Regions from separate parts of the Homo sapiens genome. Here regions 1 and 2 are each reported to be linked to region 3. The links are microRNA targets in miRTarBase. Many come from high-throughput screens and were not tested one by one. Region 3 holds a microRNA gene; each other region holds the end of a gene's coding sequence.

The links. Region 3 holds the annotated microRNA hsa-miR-4488 (AGGGGGCGGGCUCCGGCG, at 1,726-1,743, opposite strand). A microRNA usually pairs through its seed, bases 2 to 8, with sites in the 3' UTR of a target mRNA and lowers its output. Matches are read on the target gene's strand: a 7mer-m8 pairs with bases 2 to 8, a 7mer-A1 pairs with bases 2 to 7 and ends in A, and an 8mer does both.
Region 1: the mRNA of SIX5 is a reported target of hsa-miR-4488. Seed matches in the 3' UTR shown: 7mer-A1 at 1,678-1,684.
Region 2: the mRNA of TJAP1 is a reported target of hsa-miR-4488. Seed matches in the 3' UTR shown: 7mer-A1 at 2,338-2,344.

Annotation. Positions count from the first base shown.
Region 1 is chr19:45,759,556-45,766,836 of GRCh38, reverse strand. It overlaps SIX5 (SIX homeobox 5), which reads left to right. Exons shown (of 3, transcript NM_175875.5): 2 at 1-487; 3 at 726-2,052. The coding sequence ends at 1,336. MEIOSIN (meiosis initiator) reads right to left here. Exons shown (of 15, transcript NM_001310124.2): 12 at 4,970-5,158; 13 at 4,654-4,898; 14 at 3,410-3,499; 15 at 2,296-2,866. The coding sequence ends at 2,719. Among named protein-coding and RNA genes, the nearest start is that of DM1-AS, 4.6 kb to the left of the region's middle. RefSeq lists an enhancer at 2,741-3,295.
Region 2 is chr6:43,504,117-43,511,397 of GRCh38, forward strand. It overlaps TJAP1 (tight junction associated protein 1), which reads left to right. Exons shown (of 11, transcript NM_001350562.2): 11 at 645-2,438. The coding sequence ends at 1,739. LRRC73 (leucine rich repeat containing 73) reads right to left here and starts at 6,230. Exons shown (of 6, transcript NM_001012974.4): 1 at 5,398-6,230; 2 at 4,644-4,804; 3 at 4,182-4,304; 4 at 3,710-3,810; 5 at 3,340-3,562; 6 at 2,852-3,192. The coding sequence starts at 5,669. The coding sequence ends at 3,122. RefSeq lists silencers at 5,808-6,077, 6,098-6,387.
Region 3 is chr11:61,503,713-61,510,341 of GRCh38, reverse strand. It overlaps MIR4488 (microRNA 4488), which reads right to left and starts at 1,746; the gene lies at 1,685-1,746. It overlaps LRRC10B (leucine rich repeat containing 10B), which reads right to left and starts at 1,593. Exons shown (of 1, transcript NM_001145077.2): 1 at 1-1,593. The coding sequence starts at 1,343. The coding sequence ends at 465. It overlaps LOC105369329 (a long non-coding RNA gene), which reads right to left. Exons shown (of 3, transcript NR_188527.1): 3 at 3,693-4,580.

The DNA of each region.
Region 1 (7,281 bases), not on the chromosome of region 3:
CAGGGGGCCAGCGAGACCAAGACCTCTCTGGTCCTGGACCCTCAGACAGGGGAGGTGCGGCTGGAGGAGGCTCAGTCGGAGGCCCCTGAGACCAAAGGGGCCCAGGTGGCTGCTCCGGGACCAGCCCTTGGAGAGGAGGTCCTGGGGCCCCTGGCCCAAGTGGTGCCTGGCCCCCCGACGGCTGCCACCTTTCCTCTGCCCCCGGGGCCAGTGCCTGCTGTGGCTGCCCCACAAGTGGTACCGCTCTCCCCACCCCCGGGGTATCCCACGGGCCTGAGCCCCACCTCCCCACTATTGAACCTGCCCCAGGTAGTACCCACCTCACAGGTGGTGACCCTGCCCCAGGCTGTGGGGCCCCTGCAGCTGTTGGCAGCCGGGCCAGGCAGCCCTGTGAAGGTGGCAGCTGCAGCAGGCCCTGCCAATGTGCACCTCATCAACTCCGGGGTGGGCGTGACTGCCCTGCAGCTGCCTTCGGCCACTGCCCCAGGTACCCCCATCTCCCTCCCTCAGGCCTAGGTGAGAGCCGGGGAGGGGTGCAGTCATCTCGGAGAGGGAGGGGCTGTCCCTGGGCTCCTGGAGGGCATCTCATCCCTGGCAAGTCCCAGTGCCCCAAGGCCCACCACAAGGCTCCCTCCGCCCGCCCTCCAGCTGCACAGTCTCCACTTCTCTCTGGCTTGGCCTGCTCTCCTGGCTCTCACCTGCGCTCGGTCCCTCTCTCCCCACAGGAAACTTCCTCCTGGCCAACCCTGTGTCTGGCAGCCCCATCGTGACGGGTGTGGCCCTGCAGCAGGGCAAGATCATCCTCACCGCCACCTTCCCCACCAGCATGCTCGTCTCCCAGGTCCTGCCGCCAGCCCCCGGCCTGGCCCTGCCACTGAAGCCAGAGACGGCCATCTCCGTGCCTGAGGGAGGCCTCCCGGTGGCCCCCAGCCCTGCTCTCCCAGAGGCTCACGCCCTAGGCACCCTTTCTGCACAGCAGCCACCCCCCGCCGCTGCCACCACCTCCAGCACCAGCCTGCCCTTCTCCCCTGACTCCCCTGGCCTCCTGCCCAACTTCCCGGCGCCCCCACCAGAGGGGCTGATGTTGTCACCCGCGGCCGTGCCTGTCTGGTCAGCAGGGCTGGAACTAAGCGCAGGAACAGAGGGGCTGCTGGAAGCGGAAAAGGGGCTGGGGACACAGGCCCCCCACACCGTGCTGAGGCTGCCAGACCCCGACCCTGAGGGGCTGCTCCTGGGGGCCACCGCAGGGGGTGAGGTTGACGAGGGGTTGGAAGCTGAGGCCAAGGTTCTGACCCAGCTCCAGTCGGTGCCTGTGGAGGAGCCCTTGGAACTGTGACCCAGTGTGGCCCCGTGGCCTCTCCCGACATTGGTGCTGAAGACGCAGGGACAGGAATGGGAGGGGGGAGCCCCAGAAATGCGGTTGCTGAAGACCCCAGTCACCACATCCTTCTGCCTGGGTGGCCTCTCCAAGCCCTGGTGGTGCTGGGGGTTGTATCCCCGGCCACCTCCTGTCCAGGTCTCCATCCCCCTTTGGATGGGAGGCCTCTCTGTTACAGCCCTCCCCATGCTGTGCCCTGCCATATACGTGGGGGACTCAGGGTCCTGACTCAGGGGCCCTGCCCCCTCCACTTGGTACTAGCTGTAAGCGGAACACCCTGCCCCAGGGCCGGACTTCCAGCCCCCAGAGCCCTCTCCCTGTCACTCCCTGAAACACTATTAATAGCTCTGCCGATAGCTGGTGTTGTCACAACTGCCTGGAATCCGAAGGTGGAGGACAGGCAGCCCCGCGCCCCTGAGACTGGAGACCCTCCCCAGTGTGGCATTTCCTGCCAGGGGCGGGGGGTGGGGCAGCTGTGGGGAGACGGGGGTCTTCCTTCACCAGCTCCCCTCGACTCAAGCCCTTGTCCTCATTATCCGGCCCAGACCAAAGATTCCCTCATCCCTGGGGGCAGCCCTGCCGCTGTGTCTCCTTTGTATCCTAAATCTTTATTTTTCTAGGACATGTTATGCCTCCATTTTCAATTAAAATAAAGTTATCGGATTACACCACCACCAGGGGTCTGGGGTGCCTTCCAGTGTCTGTCCAAAGCAGCGCTGAACACAGAGCCCACCTCGAGACCTGGCCTTCCCATTGCTGCCTCCCGAGGGGAAGAGGGGTTTGCATTCAGATGCACAGAGTGGCTGGGGAGGGGGTGGCACTGAGGCCTCTTGCAAGCCACAGGCCTCCAGATGAGGGTGGACGGAGCACCCCAGTGGGGCAGCAGGGGGACGCAGGAGGGCCTGCCCTTGTCTCTCTTGCTGGTAACAAAGGTTCCACTTGCTTTATTTTATTTAAAACAATAAATAGTCTAAAAATAGAACAGGAGAGGGAGGAGTAGGGTGAGGTGAGCATGAACAGGGTTGCAACCGAGTGGCTCTGGGGTGGGGAAGGGAAGGGGAGAGGGGTGGGTAAACTTCACCTTCCGACACCCCGCATTTCATTTTGGGTTTCCTTCCTAAGCCTGGGGGAGAATCAAGGCAGCTGTGGGTGACTCTGGTGCTCCAGGCAAATGTGCCCAGCGGTTGGGGCTAATCAGTGCCCCCCTCCCCAGTCCCATGGGACCTGCATTCTCAGGGGCTGGAGGCCCAGGAGGGACAAGTTCATCGATGGGTCCTGGCTTCCAGCAAGAGCCGCGGTTGCCATGAGGGGTGAGGGGAGCGAGGCGAGGGGCCGCCCTCTCACTGGAGGTGCGGGGGCAGCGGCAAGGCCTTCTCGGCCAGCAGCTGGTAGAAGGGCTTTGGCGTCTCCCAGTCCTCAGCCTCGCTGCTGGAGCCGTCCTGCTTCACGATGCGGTTGTGCTGGCGGCTGAACCTGCGAGCCTTGGTGCTGGGGAGACGGTGGCAGGATGGCCTGGCTTCCTCACTCGCCTCCCGGGCATCCCTGTACCACTCCCAATCCTGTGTCCCCGCAGGGGCCTGGGCCACCGTTTTAGCCTCTATTGGGCGAGCCTTGGGTCCACCAAGTCCCAGTCAGTAAGATGGGACTCGGCCAAGGGCTCTGGGATGTGTTCAAAGTCAGGAGCCAGGGCAGGTGGCAGCTCCTTGAAGGTGGAGGGGACAGGATTCGGGGGAGTCGAGGTGGCCAAGCGACAGGAAAATCAGACCACGCCCCGAGAAAGTCGTGTGGCAGAGACAGCAAAAGAATTGAGGCAGGGGTCCATGTCTGGGCTCAGCTGTTCCCCAGCTTAGCTGTGGTGGGGTACCCCTACACCTGTGTCACCCCCAAGGGTTTCATAAGAAGGGGCAACACGCAAATTCCTCGGCCCAGTCTCCCATGCCATGACACCCAAGGCTCCAGAGACAGAGCAGGGTTCCGGGGTAGGGAGGCTCTTCCACCCCCCACCCACACCTCGGGGCCGGAGCCTCTCACCAGTATGGCCTCCGCTCCTGCTGGGTCATCACCCGCCACAGCTGGGCCAGCTCCTTGGTGGCAGCTGTGGAAGCGGTTCCAGGGCAGGATCTGGGACAGGAAGGAGGAGGAGGTAAGGAGAGGTCTGCAGGACACCCTGACTGAGAACTCAGACCCTTCCTAGCCTTGTGGGTCTACAAGGCCTCCAAGACCACCCTCTGGAGCTGAGGAGGCAGAGGGAGCTGGACTCAGCGGCTGTTCACAAGGGGGCACCTGGTGTCCCAGGAGAGTGCAGGGGACCTGTGGGCACCGCTCCTGGCCCCCACATCTGGATCTTCCTGTAAAGGAACTAGCTGTTTTCCACTGTGGCTTGGGGGGGGCCTCCCCATCCCCTGGCTCCAGGCCTGGCAGTGACTGGTTCAGGGTTGGCACCGGATCTACCAAAGTCAGTCCCAAGGACTTTGCTTAAAACCTTAGAGACCTCTCCTCCTCCCGGGGTCGCTTGGGTGGGGGACAGGACCCGAGCCTGTGCCTCCTGGGGTGACCCCACCTGCCAGAGAATGAAGCCAGCCCGGAAGACAGAGGAACTGGGTGAAAAGGACAAAGATTCCAGACAGCCTGTGTGAGCCCTAAAACCAGCTATGTCTCAAGGCAGTCTATACCCGCCCTTGTTTTCTAGGTTATATAAGCCAATTCATTTTCTTTTCTTGCTGGGCCTGATGGCTCACACCTGTAATCCCAGCAATTTGAGAGGCCGAGGCAGGCAGATCACTTGAGGTGAGGCATTCGAGACCAGCCTGGCCAACATGGTGAAACCCTGTCTCTACTAAAAATACAAAAATTAGCTGATGGCGCGCCTGTTATCCCAGCTACTCAGGAGGCTGAGGCAGGAGAATCTGAGAGGCAGAGGTTGCAGTGATTTGAGCCCGGGAGGCAGACATTGCAGTGAGCTGTGATTGTGCCACTGCACTACAGCCTGGGCAATAGAGTGAGACTCTGTCTCAAAAAACAAAACAAAACAAAAAAAACTCCTTTTTTTCTGAAGTCTAAAGCCTGAATTGGGTTTCAGCGCTGACAATGGATGGACCCTGTCCAATACAATGGGGCCGGGTTCAGTTCTGGGGAAGAACTGTGGTCCACGAAGGGTTTGTGGGGTCTCGGAGGGGGAAAAAGTGTCAGACAGTTGTGAGGAGCGGCATGGCCAGGCTGCGGGCAGAGAACGAAGCCAGGGCCTTCCCCAGGGCCAAAGACGACCCCCTACCCACCGGATGTACTGCTTCCGGTTCATCCTGCAGAACATGATGAAGCCGTTGACACACTTCTTCTTCATCTGGGGTGGGCAGGGGCCTTTCTTCTTCTCCTTGGGCTTCACAGGGGCCCTGGCTACTTGGCCCTTCGTGGCCTTTTTCTCAGCTGCCAGCAGGGGTGAGGCCAGCCGGGTGGGGGTCCATGTGGTGTCTTCGTCCTCTTCGCTGGAGCCCGGCGTGCCCACAGGGTTGGCCTGCATATCCTGGGGGAGGGAGAGGGTGGTGAGAGAGGAAGGAGGCCCTGCTGGCCCTGGCATGCGGCCGTGTCTCTCACCTCTCGCTGCTTCCACAGGGGCTCCGAGTCGCTGTCCTCCGAGCTGGAGCTGGAGCTGGAGCTGGAGCTGGAGCTGGATGGCGCCTTGCTGTTCCCGCTCAGCGAGAGGTAGCAGTGGTCCAGCGAGACTGAGGACCGGTGCAGGCTGTGGGACTCAGGAGGGTCTTTGGGGGCCTTGGAGGCTGTGTCCTGGGGCATGATGAGGGAGAAAGATGGGAGGGGAGACAAGTGGTGCCCCTTCATCCCCCCAGTACTGCTTTTCTAGGACATAACATGAGCATTAGCAGCAGCTCAGATTGGCAGGGTGTGGTGGCTTACGCCTGTAACCCCAACACTCTGGGAGGCTGAGGCAGGAGGACTGCTTGAGGCCAGGAGTTACAGACCAGCCTGGGCAACATAGAGAGACCTTGTTCTACAAAAAAAAAAAAAAAAAAAAAAAAAAAATAGGCCAGGCGCAGTGGCTCATGCCTGTAATCTCAGCACTTTCGGAGGCTGAGGCAGGAGGATCACCTGAGGTCAGGAGTTCAAAACCAGCCTGGCCAACATGGCGAAACTCTGTCTAAAAATACTAAAAAATTAGCCAGGTATGTTGGTGGGCGCCTGTAGTCCCAGCTACTCTGGAGGCTGAGGCACAAGAATCGCTTAAATCCAGGAGGCGGAGGTTGCAGTGAGCCGAGATCGTACCACTGCACTCCAGCCTGGGTGACAGAGTGAGACTCTGTCTCAAAAAAAAAAAAAGAAATTGAATTAAGTTAAATTTAAAAATAATTTAAAAAACCAGCTGGGCATGGTGGTGTGGGAGGGTCATTTGAGCCCAGGAGTTCAAGGCACTGATCTATGATGGTGACACTGCACTCCAGCCTGGGCAACAAAGCAAGACCCTGTCTTTCTTTCTTTCTTCCTTTCTTTTCTTTTTTTTCTTTTCTTTCTTTTTTTTTTTTTTGAGACGGAGTCTTACTCTTGTCCCTCAGGCTGGAGTGCAATGGCACCATCTCAGCTCCATTCTCCACCTCTTGGGTTCAAGTGATTCTCCTGCCTCAGACTCCTGAGTAACTGGGGTTACAAGTGCCCACCACCACGCCCAGCTAATTTTGTATTTTTAGTAGAGAGGGGGTTTCATCATATTGGTCAAGCTAGGTTTAAACTCCTGACCTCAGGTGATCTGCCCGCCTCAGCCTCCCAAAGTGCTAGAAGTATAGGCATGAGCCACCACGCCCGGCCACACCCTGATAATTTCTTTTTCTTTTTCTTTTCCTTTTTTGAGACTGGGTTTCGCTCTTGTTGCCCAGGCTGCAGTCCAACGGTGCCATCTTGGCTTACTGCAACCCCCGCCTCCCAGGTTTAAGCGATTCTTCTGCCTCAGCCTCCTGAGTAGCTGGGATTACAGGCACGTACCACCACACCCGGCTAATTTTGTATTTTTAGTAGAGATAGTATTTCGCCATGATGGCCAGACTGGTTGGTCTCCAACTCCTGACCTCAGGTGATCTGCCCTCCTCGGCCTCCCAAAATAGTGGGATTACAGGCGTGAGCCACCACGCCCGGACACTTCTTGTATTTTTAGTAGAAATGGGGTTTCCCCATGTTGGCCAGGCTGGTCTTGAACTCCTGATCTCAGGTGATCCGCCTACGTCAGCCTCTCAAACTGCTGAGATTACAGGTGTGAGCCACCGCGCCCAGCTTAGTCTTTTGATTTCAATTTCCTTATCTGTAAAATGGGGCCACAGGAGACCCTGCTTCGTAGAGTAGTTGTAAAATGATGTGGGAAGCTGGGCACGGTGGCTCACACCTGTAATCCCAGCACTCTAGGAGGCCAAGGTGGGCGGATCACTCGAGGTCAGGAGTTGGAGACCAGCCTGGCCAACATGGTGAACCCCCATCTCTACTAAAAATACACAATTAGCCGGGTGTGGTGACAGGCACCTGTAATCCCAGCTACTAGGGGGGCTGAGGCAGGAGAATTGTTTGAACCCGGGAGGCGGAGGTTACAGTGAGCCGAGATCGCACCACTGCACCCCAGCCTGGGCGACAACAGGGAAACTCAGTCTAAATAAAATAAAATAAAATAAAATAAAATAAATGAATAAAATGATGTGAGTTTTCTTTTCTATGGGCACCTGGCAGCTTTTATCCTTTTTTATCCATTTTGTCCAATTCGTTCCACGTGCCCAGCACAGAGCCGGCATCTGGTGGCCACCAGTGAGCGCAGAGAGGGTCGGGGGGCGGTTTTAAGGATGAGGAGACGCATGAGTGGAAGGACAGATGGGTAGATGGTGGCTGAAAGGGTGAGGGAGTGGATGAGTGAATGAAGC
Region 2 (7,281 bases), not on the chromosome of region 3:
TTTTTTTTTTTTTTTTGAGACGGAGTCTTGCTCTGTCACCTAGGCTGGAGTGCAGTGGCACAATCTCGGCTCACTGCAACCTCCGCCTCCCGGCTTCAAGCAATTCTCCTGCTTCAGCCTCCCAAGTAGCTGGAATTATAGGCGCCCACCACCACGCCTGGCTAATTTTTTTGTCTTTTTAGTAGAGATGGGGTTTCATCGTGTTAGCCAGGATGGTCTCGATCTCCTGACCTCGTGATCCACCCGCCTCGGCCTCCCAAAGTGCTGGGATTACAGGCATGAGCCACTGTGCCCGGCCCAGAAGTAGAGGTATTTCTAAGGCTACTGGTCTATGCAGATTCTCCAAACTTAAGTATGGTTTGGGCAGAAGCTGGGAGATAGAAGTTTGAGAACATGCTGGCTGCAGCAGCAGATCCGGGTTTAAATCTTGGCCAAGTTAACCAAAGCTTTGAGTTGTCTTCCCCTCTCCAGGCCTATGTGTCTGTGAAGTGAGGGTATACACACTGGCATGCTGTAAGAACAGGAGATAGCAGAGTGCTGAGTACACAGAGGTACTTAAAGGTGGGAGCCATTACTTTCGCCATGAGTCAAGTTATCTTTGGCTGCGATCATTGATGTCTCTCTTTCCTGCTCTTTTACCTCAGCTGCCCTGTGAGCTACAGGACATGGTTCGGAAACATTTGCACAGTGGTCAAGAGGCCGCCAGCCCAGGTCCTGCTCCCAGCCTAGCCCCAGGGGCTGTGGTGCCTACCTCAGTCATTGCCCGAGTGTTAGAGAAGCCGGAGTCTCTACTGCTCAATTCAGCCCAGTCAGGCAGCGCCGGGCGCCCCTTGGCTGAGGATGTCTTTGTGCATGTGGACATGAGTGAGGGTGTCCCAGGTGATCCAGCCAGTCCCCCGGCCCCTGGCAGCCCCACCCCACAACCCAATGGGGAGTGCCACTCTCTGGGTACTGCCAGGGGCTCCCCGGAGGAAGAGCTGCCCCTGCCAGCCTTTGAGAAGCTGAACCCCTACCCAACCCCGTCTCCACCACACCCACTGTATCCTGGCCGCAGGGTAATAGAGTTCTCTGAGGATAAGGTTCGGATCCCCCGCAACAGCCCCCTGCCCAACTGCACTTACGCTACCCGCCAGGCCATTTCCCTGAGCCTGGTAGAGGAGGGGAGTGAGCGGGCCCGCCCCAGCCCAGTGCCCAGCACCCCTGCCTCAGCCCAGGCCTCACCCCACCACCAGCCCAGCCCAGCACCCCTAACACTCAGTGCCCCAGCTAGCTCTGCCAGCTCTGAAGAGGACCTGCTGGTCAGCTGGCAGCGGGCATTTGTGGACCGTACTCCACCACCTGCTGCTGTGGCCCAGCGCACAGCCTTTGGACGCGATGCCCTCCCTGAGCTGCAGCGCCATTTTGCCCATAGCCCCGCTGACAGAGATGAGGTGGTCCAGGCACCTTCTGCCCGACCCGAAGAGAGTGAGCTTTTGCTACCCACAGAACCTGACTCTGGCTTTCCCAGGGAGGAAGAAGAGCTGAACCTGCCTATCAGTCCTGAGGAAGAGCGCCAGAGCCTGCTGCCCATTAACAGGGGCACAGAGGAGGGGCCAGGCACTTCCCACACCGAGGGCAGGGCCTGGCCACTCCCCAGCTCCAGTCGCCCCCAGCGCAGCCCCAAGAGGATGGGGGTTCACCACCTGCACCGCAAGGACAGCCTGACCCAGGCCCAGGAGCAGGGCAACCTGCTCAACTAGGGCCCCTGCTGGCCTTCCTGCCATTGCTGCACCAGGACTGCAAGGAGTCCCCACACCTTGGCAGCTCAGGGTCCCCAGTCCAAGCCCTTGACCTCTCCTCTATCCAGACCCGCACAGCTGTTTCCTGTGTGGATGGGGTCAGGTTGTGGGCCATGCCAGGCCTGTCAGCTGCGTTGACTGACTGCAGCAGCTTGCCTCATGGTTTTCCCTTTTTCTTAGAATATTTATTCTTCAGAGGTAACATGCAGTTGGGTCTCAAGACCTTTCCTCCAATCAGCCCAACCCAGCCCAGACTGGGCTTTTCTGGGGAGCTGAGGAGTTTATCAGTATTCATCTTCCATCCTTTCATAGTCACAAGTTTTGTTATTTTGTTTTTTTTTGGGGGTGATGGTGTAATTGTTAACCTCATTTCCGTTTCCTACCTGTTTGCTTCCCCCCCCAGTCCTCCGCATGAGCTGTTGCCCTCCAGGGGCCTGGCACAGCTGGCCTTGGGGACGAGGGAGAGGACTGATTCAGGGCCCCCTCAGCTGTCTCCTCCCTCCCTCTGGAAAGGAGGGTGGGGCTCAGGGGCCTCAAGCTGGGCTCTGTGTGAGGCCTGGCCCCCACTCCCAACCTTGGCTCTAGACTGTTACTCTTAAGCTTTGAGAAATTTTCACATTGATGACTATTTTAAAATCAAATAAAACTATTTTACTGGTATGGCCTAACTTGTCTTAATGACCTCCCCTCTCCCACTTTTCTCCCCATTCATAAGTATTCCCAGTCCTAGTCTCATCCTAGTCGGCTAGTGACTCCCCCTCGCCCCACTCTGCCTAGGGTTTCCCTAGGCACAGAGCATCAGGGAGCGGGAAAGGGGGCACCTTAAGTAACCTTAGCAGGGTTCCTGAGTCTTCCCTCGGAGGCAGGGACCATATCTTTATGGGGCTAGTGTAAGGTGTTGCCTCAGAGGCCTGGGTTCTAGGCCTGGCCAGGCCTATTTTGAGATCCTGGACCAGGTCACGCAGCTTAGAGCTTGGGCTGTGCGATGCTACTGCCCCCTAGTGGTGCTTACTGGTAGTTCCAATTCCTCCCCTACTGCCGGCCCCAAGTGACTACAGCCACACGACAGGTTGTGGAGTTCATAAAATCTTTTCCGAGCCAGCGGGTTGCAGCCAGAGCTGCCAAGTTCAAAGGCATTGCCGTGGGTTCAAGTGCCCCCCAAGGCTGTTGCTCAGTCACAGCTTCCAGAGCTTCCTTCCCACCACACTGCCAGGAGCTGCCAGAGCCCCCATGCAGCCCCTGACCCCAGTTCCCTCCCAAGTCCCAGGGCCTGACCCTGATATCTGGGGCAAGGTGCTCGGGACATAGATAAGTGAAATGGTGTGCAGAGGCCCAGTGGAGAGTCACATCTCGGTCTCAGCCAACAGACTGTCCCCTAGTCCTGACGTCATTAGCACCATCTGAGAGCTGGGATCTGTGGAAGGGCAGAGAAGTGTTCAGACCACCATTCCTTCCTCCAATGGGGACCACAGATAGGTGAGAGCCTAGGTTCTGCACACCCACTCTCCCTTGTCCCGAGCCTCTTCCAGACCTGGCTCTGATCAACCCTCTGGGTTCTTACCGCTGGGGCACATCCAGGAGCTGCTGCCTCTCTGGTGGGCAGCAGGCTCCCGCCCTCTCTCCCATTCCTGGGTGTCGCCAGCCCCTCCTGCCACTTCCTCCTCCTCCTCTCCCTCAGAGAGGAGGTCACAGATCTGTTGCTGCAGCTCTGGGCTAATGCTGTTCTCAGCCAACACCAGGCTCCGCAAAGCTGTGGGGTAATTTTCTACCATGTCCAGCAGGGTCTGAAGTGGGGAAGAATATGGAAAAGGATGAACACAGTTAAGGCAGGTCCTCAGACCTCAACCTGCCATGCCTTAGGTATGTCATCAGACACATAAACTAACCTCCACCCCATCCCCTGGCCGTGCCCAAACATGACGACTTCCCACCTGAGCTGACTGGTTGGTGAGCCCTGTGCCCTCCAAGTCTAGGACCTCTAGGGTACGACTAGAGGCCACAGCTACAGCCAGCATTCCTGCCACATGGTCACCTGGGGAGACAACACACGTGCACACATTCATACACATGCCTGCTAATCCTTACAGATAGCTTCCCCATTGCCTTAACAACTTTAGATACTAATCCCTGGCCAAGGAAACATGGACAATTGGTGGTGGTCAGGAAGGGATCATTGTGATTGGTGAGTGAAGGCACGAAGCAAGTTAGGCCCACGGGTGGTGACTGATGTTTTGATCTATTTGTTGGTCACCTGGTCCGCCACAAAGCTATCTCCTTGACCCCTGGGGGCTCCCGTTTCTCTTCCCTCTCCCAGTGTACGGGTTACCATGTCAACTGATGGTCCCAGGCTCTTGGATAGGGCATGAGGCAGTGACAGCCCAAGGGGGTATTCTTGAGCCTCACCCAGGGGGTTGTAATCCAGATTGAGGACGCGGACCTGGGAGCTGTGGGCCACGGCAATGGCAAGGCGGCTCCAGCCCTTAGGGGTGATGCCAGGGTTGGCACTCAGCGTTAGCTCCTTCAAGCCTGGGCAGCATCATAGCAAGAAACCAGAATAGGGAGGGTTAAGCCCTCCTCCAGCCCTTCCCCACAATCCCTGTGTCTCTGGGGTGTCCCTAGTGGCTGGGCACCACCTTACCCCCACCATAGAGGTCAAGAGCCATTAAGGAGGCCCATGCTTCCTCTGCCTGCCCCAGCCTGGATTCCTGAGTCTCCATGCTGCCCCCCGTCCTGCCCCTTCCTGAGAGGAGTAGAAAGATGTTCTCGCCCACATCATCAGAGCTCTGGGGCCACACCCCCTTCCCTCTGCATTTCGATTTTCATCACTGCCACACTAGCCCAAGCCCTCAACAGGGTCCTGCTCACCAGATTTGGCCCCATCTGGGGGCAGGAGGCCACAGATGAGGTTGATGGCTTCATCACCCAGCATGCAGTCCCCCAGGTCCAGAGCCACGAGGGCAGGGTGGAGGGCCAGGGCTGGGTTCAGCAAGGCCAGCCCCGCATCTGTCAGGGGGCTCCCATGCAGGCTGGAGGAGAGTGAGAGAGCAGGGTTACTGCAGTCCTCCGCACTATCTACATGGGAAAGGGGCACTTTCACTTCTGTCAGCCCTAGGTATGGGGAGGGCAGTCACAGCGCTTGAGAGGCCTGGAAAAGGAGAAGGAAAGTTCTAGATTCTCAGGGAATACAGATAGAGGGAGAATTCGGTTTGTTTTCTGGGGCAGGGATCCAGGACATTGCACAGGGAGGGGCAGAGAAGGGGTGGGTGGGTGGTGGACCGGAACTCTGCAGTGGGCAGGGCTCTCGTCCCCACGGGGATATTCCCCCTTGGGAACCAAGGAGCTGCCCCAGTGAAGTAAATGCAGATGATTAGGTGGGGAGGTACGGCCCCCACCTCATGTCAGGAACTGGTGGGTATCCCAACACGGCTAGGGTCGCGCGTGCAAAGTCCAAGCATGTGCTTGGAGGGTGCTGTGAAGGCATGGGCCGAGGCACGGTGTATGTGCATAAGGCATGTGAAGGTAGGATGGTACTGGAAGGAGTGTGGAGGAACAGGAGGTGCCAGGGGAGTGTATGGAAGGGTGCAGTGCCCGGGACCCCCTTGCGAGGGGGCGCACTCACAAGAGGGACTGGATGGAGCGGTTGGTCCGCAGAGCCTCAGCCAGCTGCTTGATGCGGCTGGGGCTGGACACGACGCCCAGGTTAAGGTTGAGCTGCGCCAGGGACGTGGCCCCGGCCAGGGCCCGGCAGATGCGGCCAAAGTCGCGGTCGCAGAGGCGGCAGCCGCGCAGTGAGAGCAGGCGCACGGCGTTGTCGCGAAGGCCGCGGCAGATGTCCCGCACCTCGGCGCCGGACAGCGGCTCCCCCGAAATCTGGATGGAGCTGGGCAGCATCGTGCCCACGGCTGGGCCTCCGGGTACGGGGCCGGAACGGAGGTTGGTGGGGCCGCGGGCGGGGCCGGGGATAGGGCCGGGGTCGGGGCCCCGGCAGGGGTCGCGGGCGGAGTGGGGCCGGGGGTGGAGGCGGCGGCTGTGGCGGAGGCTGCGGCTGCGGCGGAGGCTGCGGCGGGGGCGGAGAAGAGCTACCGGGACTGAGCCGGAGCCGGCCAGAGGTGCGGAGGCGTCCAGGGCGCGGGCCGGGCTGAAGTGGGGCGGCGCTGGGGCGGGGGCGGCCCGCACGGTCCGTGTCTGGGCGTTGGGGCGGGTGCGCGTTCCGGGGGTTGGGCAGGCGCTGCTCGGCGCTTGTCCTTGTCCCTCGCGGTCGCGGCGGCGGCGGCGGCAGCGGCAGCGAGCGGCTCAAGGGCTTCGGCTTACCGGTCTCGGCTAGGAGGCCGTACCCGCTCCCTCCTTCTCTGCCGCCCGGCTCCCCCCGACCACCCCGCGGGCCTGGCCGCACGGCTGGCAGAGAGAGCCTGAGGCGGGCGGCTGGCGGCAGCTCCGGCTCCAGCTCCAGAGAGCGAGCGGGCGGCGAGTTCCCATGGCAACGGCCGCGTCACCGGCGCTCGCCCCGCCCCCTGCCCGGCCAAGGCCACGCCGGCCCGCGAGGTTCGCGTACACTGGGTGGTTCGGGGCAAGGAGCTGGGAGCGATAGGCCGCTCTTCCCTTGGGAGTGGGGTCAGCCAACTGGCAGGCGGCAGGCGGCAGGGCTGAGTGGGTAGGGCTGACGGGGAGCGGAATGGAGGCACGCCCCGTGGAGATGGCGTTGGGCACGGTTACTGCTGCTTCTGCCCATTCTTCCATCCTTCCCCGTTCCTAAGGTCCATACCCCCGCCGGAATCCAGGGCACTGTTCCCTCCTATTTGGAAGGCCCCAGGGCCCTTTCATCCGCGCCGCGCCTCGCTCCCGCCCCCGTGACTCGAGGCGCAGCGTGCGTGGTGATCCCGGCCCATGGGGACTTCCCCGCTTGCTCCTCGCCAAGATGGCGGCCTCATCAGGGAGGCCCCAGGGGCCACGGCTGGGCAGAGCCAGCTTGAGCTGCTGGGGAGAAGGGTACCCCATAGGGTCCCTAGGGCAGGGGAGCCTCAGATAGATGCAAGGTCCTGGTGCCACACCTTCTCAGGTACGCAGGGCACTGTTGACATCTGAGGGTGTGTCCGTGCCGCGAGACTGGGGCAGCCAATACAAAGAAGGTGCCAGGGCCAGGGCCCTGGAGCACTGGTGAGGACGTGAAGGCGGCTGAGCCACACTGCACGGTGCAGGCGGTGCTGTCTCAACTTTGTCCTCTGGCCAGGGTGGTGGGGGACTCACTTGTGTAACGCAGGACAAATGAAGGGCACCTCTGTTTGTCCCTTTGTTAGGAGGGATAGATGCTGCTGACCCAGATTTACTAGTGTTAAGATGATTATTTTACATAAAATATAATATTCAATATAGTGAAGGGAGGTCAAAGGCCCTATTCCCACTCTTAGCCACCTGAATTAACTTATTAAGTGGAGCATATTAAAGAGGTGGTGGGGGTGGATGGTGCTATGTTAGGAGTGGTGGTTGGTTTTAAGAGGAAAGACAG
Region 3 (6,629 bases):
CGCAAGGGCAGTCCTGCCCCACACAGGCACGCAGTCCATCCCAGAGGTAGCGGCTCCTGTCCTAGAAAGGGTGGGCCTAGGAGACCCAAACCCCAGAAAGAGGGAGGGTGTTGGGTGCCCTGCATCCAGACTCAGGGAGACGTGACAATTCTGTGGCCCTCAGAGACCCTGGTTCCAGGAGGAAGCTGGTGCCTCTGTTATCAGTGGCTCCATCGGGGACTGGACCCAGCCCAGACTTCTTGGTCTGACAATTGCCCACAGATCAGCCAGGGTATAGTCAGTCCTCTTACTACCTAGGAGTGTCTGAAGATGAGCCCCAGCCCTGCCTGTGCCCGGCAACTCGCCAAAAGTAGCCGTTCCATTGACCTAAGTAGGGACCCACCAGTCCCGCAGGCCTAACCAGCCAAAGCTTCCTAGAGCCCCTCCTCTCAGAGTGGCTGAAGCCCATCAGCCAGAACATAGGCTCAGGTGCCCAGTCCTGGAGCGGCTTCCAGGGCGCGGAAGCTGCCCCCGGGGGCGCCCAGAGCCCGGGAACCAGCGCCGCCTATGAGCAGGTCTTCCTCCTCCTCATCCTCAAAGGCCCGCGCTGGGCGCCGGGGCGGAGGCCGGGGCGTGGGCTCGTCGCGCTCCGCCATGCGCTCGACGGCGCCCTCGCCCACGAGGAACACGGTGTCCGCGACGCGCGGGGGCCCGGTGACGGGGTTGTGGTCGTAGGAGAAGACGCGCAGCGCGCGCAGCGGGTGCAGGTCGGGGAAGCCGCCCAGGCGGTTGCGGTCGAGGTCGAGGATGTGCAGGCGGCCCATGCGCAGCAGCGCGGGCGGGAACTCCTCGAAGCGGTTGCCGTAGAGCCAGAGGCCGCGCAAGCCCGTCATGCGCGGCAGCTCGGCCGGCAGCGCGCGCAGCCGGTTGTCGCCCATCTGGAGCGACTGCAGCGCCACCAGGCGCAGCAGCGGCCGCGGGAAGCGCCGCAAGAAGTTGCCCTCGATCCAGAGGCAGCGCAGGCTCTGCAACTGCGCGAAGTCGGCGGGCAGCGCCAGCAGCCGGTTGCCGCCCAGATAGAGGCGCGTGAGGCGCGGCAGGCGGCACAGGCCGTCAGGCAGTCGCTCGAGCTTGTTGAAGTCCAGCGCCAGGATGCGCAGCTCGCGCAGCTCCTCGATCTCCTCCGGCAGCTCGCGCAGCCCCGTGCCGCTCACATACAGCTTCTGCAGGCGGCTCAGCGCGCACACTGCGCTGGGCAGCCGCCGCAACCGCCGCCCGCTCAGCTCCAGCTGCTGGTCGCCGCTGCGCAGCTGCTCCTCTGCGTCCGACGGCAGCTCATCCGGCGTGGACTCGGCGATGCCCATGGTCACGGGCCCCGGCCGGGGCCGCCGCCACTGCCACCGCCAGGCATCGCCCCGCCCCGGCCGCCCCCCAGCCGCCCCGACGGTGCCGGAGCCGCGCCGGCCCCCGGGCCCCCCGCCCCGGCCTTCCCCCGCGCCGGGAGGGGGGCCGTGCGGGGCCGGGAGGAGGCACCCACTTGGGGCACCGCCGCCGCGCGCCGCGCTCCACCGCCCGCCCTCGGGCCTCCCCCGTTGCCTCCGCCGGAGGCCGACTGGCTAGGGTTCGCGCTGACTCGCAGCTTAGCGACCCGTCGCCCTGGCAACCCCGACGCGCGTGCGGCTGCCAATGAGGCGGAGGGAGGGCGGGGCGGGGCGGGGCCAAGGCGCCACCCTAGTGGGGTCCCAGCGCCGGAGCCCGCCCCCTACCTGCCCATCCAGCCCACCGCGGAGCAAGCACAAGCCGAGAGATTCCCCGCCCCGGCCAAGCCTGGCACTGAGACCCGACGCCCGACGCTGTTTGGTGTGCGGTTGTGTGCGCCCCAGAGCCGCGGGTCCAAGAAGGCGAAGGAAACGCTGGCGGTGGATCAAAGACTCTGGACTAGAGGCTCACAAGGAGGGGCTGAGGGGCGCGGTCACTGCGAGCCATTCACGTCCAGCGGCGTGCGGCCGGCCTACCTGCTGGGATCACTTCAGTGTAGTAACTCGAAACAGTGTTACTGTCCGGCCCTTTTCACATCTGCTGGTTTTACCGGGCCCCAGGGCTTGGCTCCGCCCCGCCTAATTGCCCTACAGCTTCCTCATTGCTACACTCACACCCCTCTCTCCTGCCAGGATCCCTCCACCGACGCTCAAAGTCTGTGTGTGGCTGCGGTGGACAGAGGACTGGGACACGTGAACGCCTTTGAGCCACCAATCATGGCCACTCTCATTCCATGACTCTTCTTCCTTCGCCTGCTACCACCAGCAGCAGTTCCCCCCTGCCTTCTCCCCCCACCTCCCATCCGGAGCCCTCCTGCGGGAGCTCCTGGCAGAAAAGCACTGGCTGTCACTGGCTTCGAGCCCACGTGTGCCCAGCACTATGCTGAAAGCATTGCGTTGAGTCCTTGGCACAGCCTATGAGGTAGACACCCTCATCACCCCGATTTTAAAGATGGAGAAACTGAGGGTCAAAGAGACATGACTTGAGCTGGGTCAGTCTGAGCTGAGTGAAGTGCCCAAGGTCACCCAGCTGATGAGCAGCTGGATTCGAAGCCAGGTAGTGTGACTCCAGAGCCTGTGTTCCTAACCATAAACCATACCGATAGATGGAAACAAGGTTCACTCCACCTCCAGCAATGAATTTTCTCACAACAGAGCCTCTGATTCTCTGGACAAAGCTACAAAGACAGCACTATAATCCCACATGAAAGATGAGAGAAGTGGCCTCGCGGGGATTAGGCACCCTGCTTACGGTCACACAATGCATAGAGGTTGCAGCCCGGGAGCCAAATTTTCGGGCTCCAAGCCTCCTGCCTCCTGCCTTCTCTTGAACCCGGCTGGTGTGACCCATGTAACTGGCTGAGTGGACTGACTTCAGGAGAGCACGCTGCCCTTTGGCCCACCCCCATTGCCATCCCCACTGCAGGGGAAGGGGGATGGAAGACAGCCCAAGGGCAGAGAGCAGTTGCCAATGCAACGGGAGGAAGGGAACCATCCCCACTGGAAAGTAAGCTGCCCAGCCAGGGAGGTTTGGGCATCTCCTTCCCTGCTGGCACAGGCTCTAGAGCATACAGTAGACATTCCATGCAAATTTTTATTTATTTATTTATTTATTTATTTATTTATTTATTTATTTAGAGACAGAGTTTTGCTCTTGTTGCATAGGTTGGAGTGCAATGGCGTGATCTTGGCTCACTGCAACCTCCGCCTCGCCTCCTGGGTTCAAGCGATTCTCTTGCCTCAGCCTCCCAAGTAGCTGAGATTACAGGTGCCCACCACCACGCCCAGCTAATTTTTGTATTTTAGAAGAGACAGGGGTTCACCATGTTGGTCAGGCTGGTCTCGAACTCCTGATCTCAGGTGATCCACCTGCCTCAGCCTCCCAAAGTGCTGGAATTATAGGCATGAGCCACTGCGCCTTGCTGAAAAAAACTTAACAAAAAAAGTGGAGGCAAACATTGCATACAGTGAAATGCATAGATCGTAAGTGTCTTCTTGGATGCGTTTTGACAAATGTACACACCCCTGTCCCATTTCCATCAACCCAAGAGTTCTCTCAAGCCTCTTGCGGTCAATCCCCACCTCACAGAGGCAACTATGATCCTGACCTCTATCCTTATGGATCAGTTTTCCCTGTTCTTGAATTTCACACAAATGAAATTATTCAGCACATGCTTTTTTTCAGATAATATATATTTGTTGGATACATGAATGAAAGGACAGAGCAATAGCAATTCTAATATGGCAAGAGGTGTTAGGGGGCGGACAGATGATGGGGGGACACAGAGGCAGATGTTGCTCTGAGCCACGAACCAGCCATGCACCCCCATCCTGGGAGAGACTGGCAAAACGAAAGCAGGAATCCAGGCCAAGGTAGAGGACCCAGGTGGAACCCAGACACCAGACCTAGGGTATAGGAGTCTCAGCCCCAACCGGAGGGGCTTCAGGCTCCTCCCAGATGTCACTTAAGTTCCAATCCAGCTCTCTCCCTTCTACTCATTCGGGAGGACTTCTTGGAAGAGGTAAGTCTCTCAGAGACCAGAAAGGTAGGGAATACCCAGCCAGGCTAATGGGATGAGGATGAGTCCCTCCCCCCACCCCCAAGCAGTTTGAGGGAACATTGGCTGTGGAGGAGGAGGCTCAGCAGCCCAGCCTCGCCACATGCTCAGGCTGGCACCCAGCGCCAGGCTGCCCTCTTGGGCTCCATCAGCACAGGCAGCACCACATGAGCCCACATGAGCCTCTCCACCCCGGCACCAGCCTGGCAGAGCTTCCTGGGGCCGAGAGCATGGAGGACCAGCCCTCTTCTTTCTCAGAGTCTTTTTCTTGCTCTCGGCAGATCCTGTACCTTCACCTCCCACCAGGCCCTTCTCAGTGGGTAAAGGTAAAATGTGCTGGCGTTCCAGGCCCACGCAGGCTGGCAGTGGGGCAATCATCATGATGAATCACGCTGGCACTGCAGGCACCCGGTCCTTGTTGAGGCGTAACTAATGAATTAGCTTCACCCCCAGCACGGGGCCTCTCAGCCTTTCCCCACTTCCCAGGAAGGCAGGAAACTGAGACCTGGGAGGGGGAAGCAGGGGAGGAGAGAGGACTCTGTCAGCTCCAGGCATGGGTCCCAGACCCTGGCCAGCCCCTCTGCCCCCACACACACTGCAAAAACACCCAAAGTGCAGGTCCCCCAGGGCCCCAGAAACTGCCTCTCTGTTACTAATCATGAGCTATAACTATTAGTGCCCACCCCCAACTCTGTATTTTTTAAAGGATTTCTTAAAATATAGGAAAAGTGTGGCGCTGTGATAAACACCCCCATGCCCAGTACCCAGCATTGACAATTGTTCACATTTCATCAAACTTGCTTTAAACCTATTTTCTTTTAAATAAAAGGAAGAAAACGGCACACGTAATATACAAGTCTCCTTTGTCTCCCCTCCAATGTCCCCATAGGCACTACCGCCCCCTCCACACTGACCCTGCCAAAGTCCCCTCTGGATTCCCCTCCCTGCCTTGGGGCCAGGACCCCCCTGGCTGCTGAATAAGATGATGGGATCTTAGCATCCTAGGTTCTTAGAAAACAAGGATTCAAACCTATTAGAGCCAACTATACGATGTCAGAGCTGGAAGGGTGCTTAGCGCCTCTGGGAGGTCACAGGCTCTCTTCAATGTCTGCAAGAAGGTAGGGACCCTTGTTCCAGAAAAATGCATGGAGGCAGAGACTCACCCAATGATGTACGCAATTCCCAGGGGTTCATGGTCTCTTGGGTGTCTAGGCCAACCCATTCATTTGGCAAAAAAGGAAAGCGATGATGTCCTCACCTCATGGCCCACTCCCCTTTCCTGCATCAGCCAGAACTTCAGTTCCTGCCATCTTTCAGGTATTCATTCAACAAACCTTAAGCACCTACTTCTATGCCTAGGCACTGGGGATTACTATGAATGTAAACATAATAGACAAACCCCCTGCCTTTGTGGAACTTATATTCATGCGAGTGGAGATCATCAACAAAACACGTGTCAGGTCATGATCAGGCTACGGAAGAAATAAAGCAGGGAAAAGAAAGGAGGAGGACTGGCCGGGCATGTTGGCTCACACCTGTAATTTCAGTACTTTGGGAGGCCAAGGTAGGTGGATCACTTGAAGCAAGGACTTCAGGACTAACCTGGCCAACATGGTGAAAGTCCATCTCTATTAATAAAAAAATTTTAATTTTAATTTTAATTTTAAAAAAAGAGAGAGGAGGACTGAGAAATGTGTGGGGGGTGGGGAGGGGCTGTCCTTTAAAACTGAGTGGCTAAGGCCGGGCACGATGGCTCATGCCTGTAATCCTAGCACTTTGGGAGGCCGAGGCGGGCAGATCACCTGAGGTCAGGGGGTCGAGGCCAGCCTGACCAACATGGTGAAACTCTGTCTCTACTAAAAGTACAAAAATTAGCCAGGGTGGTGGTGGGTGCCTGTAATCCCAGCTACTTGGGAGGCTGAGGCAGGAGAATTGCTTGAACCCGGGAGGCAGAGGTTGCAGTGAGCTGAGATTGCCCGTTGCACTCCAGCCTGGGCAACAGATCTGGACTCTGTCTAAAAAAAAAAAACAAAAAAACATCTGAGTGGCCAAAGGAGGTCTCATTGAGACCATGGCATTGAGCAAAGATGGCAGGGTACACTCCTGGCAGTGGAGATGGCAGTGCCAAGCCCCTAGGGCAAGAGTATGCCTGGGACTTTGGGAGCAGCAAGGGGCCCAGCCCAGGGAGCAAGGGGAAGCATGGTGGTCCAGGAGATCAGAGACAGAAAGTAAGGACTGGGCAGGCCGAGGAGGGCCCCTGTCCTTCATGAGGACTTTGGCTTTGACTCTAGGTGACAGGTCATCCGGGAATTTTGCACAGAGGACACATGTTTTAACAGGATCCCTTTGGCTATGGCTGCAGGATATGGGGGGGTATGTGTGTGTGTGTGCACGCACACGTGTGTGCATGCGTGTACGTGTGTGCGTGCATGCGTGCATGCATGTGTATGTGTGTGTGTTGGGGAAAGGGTTTTGTGCAACTTTAACCTCTCTCCTCTTGGTTCTCTCCCACAGGATAATGCTAGCTGTCGTTTACTCAGCACATACAGGTTGT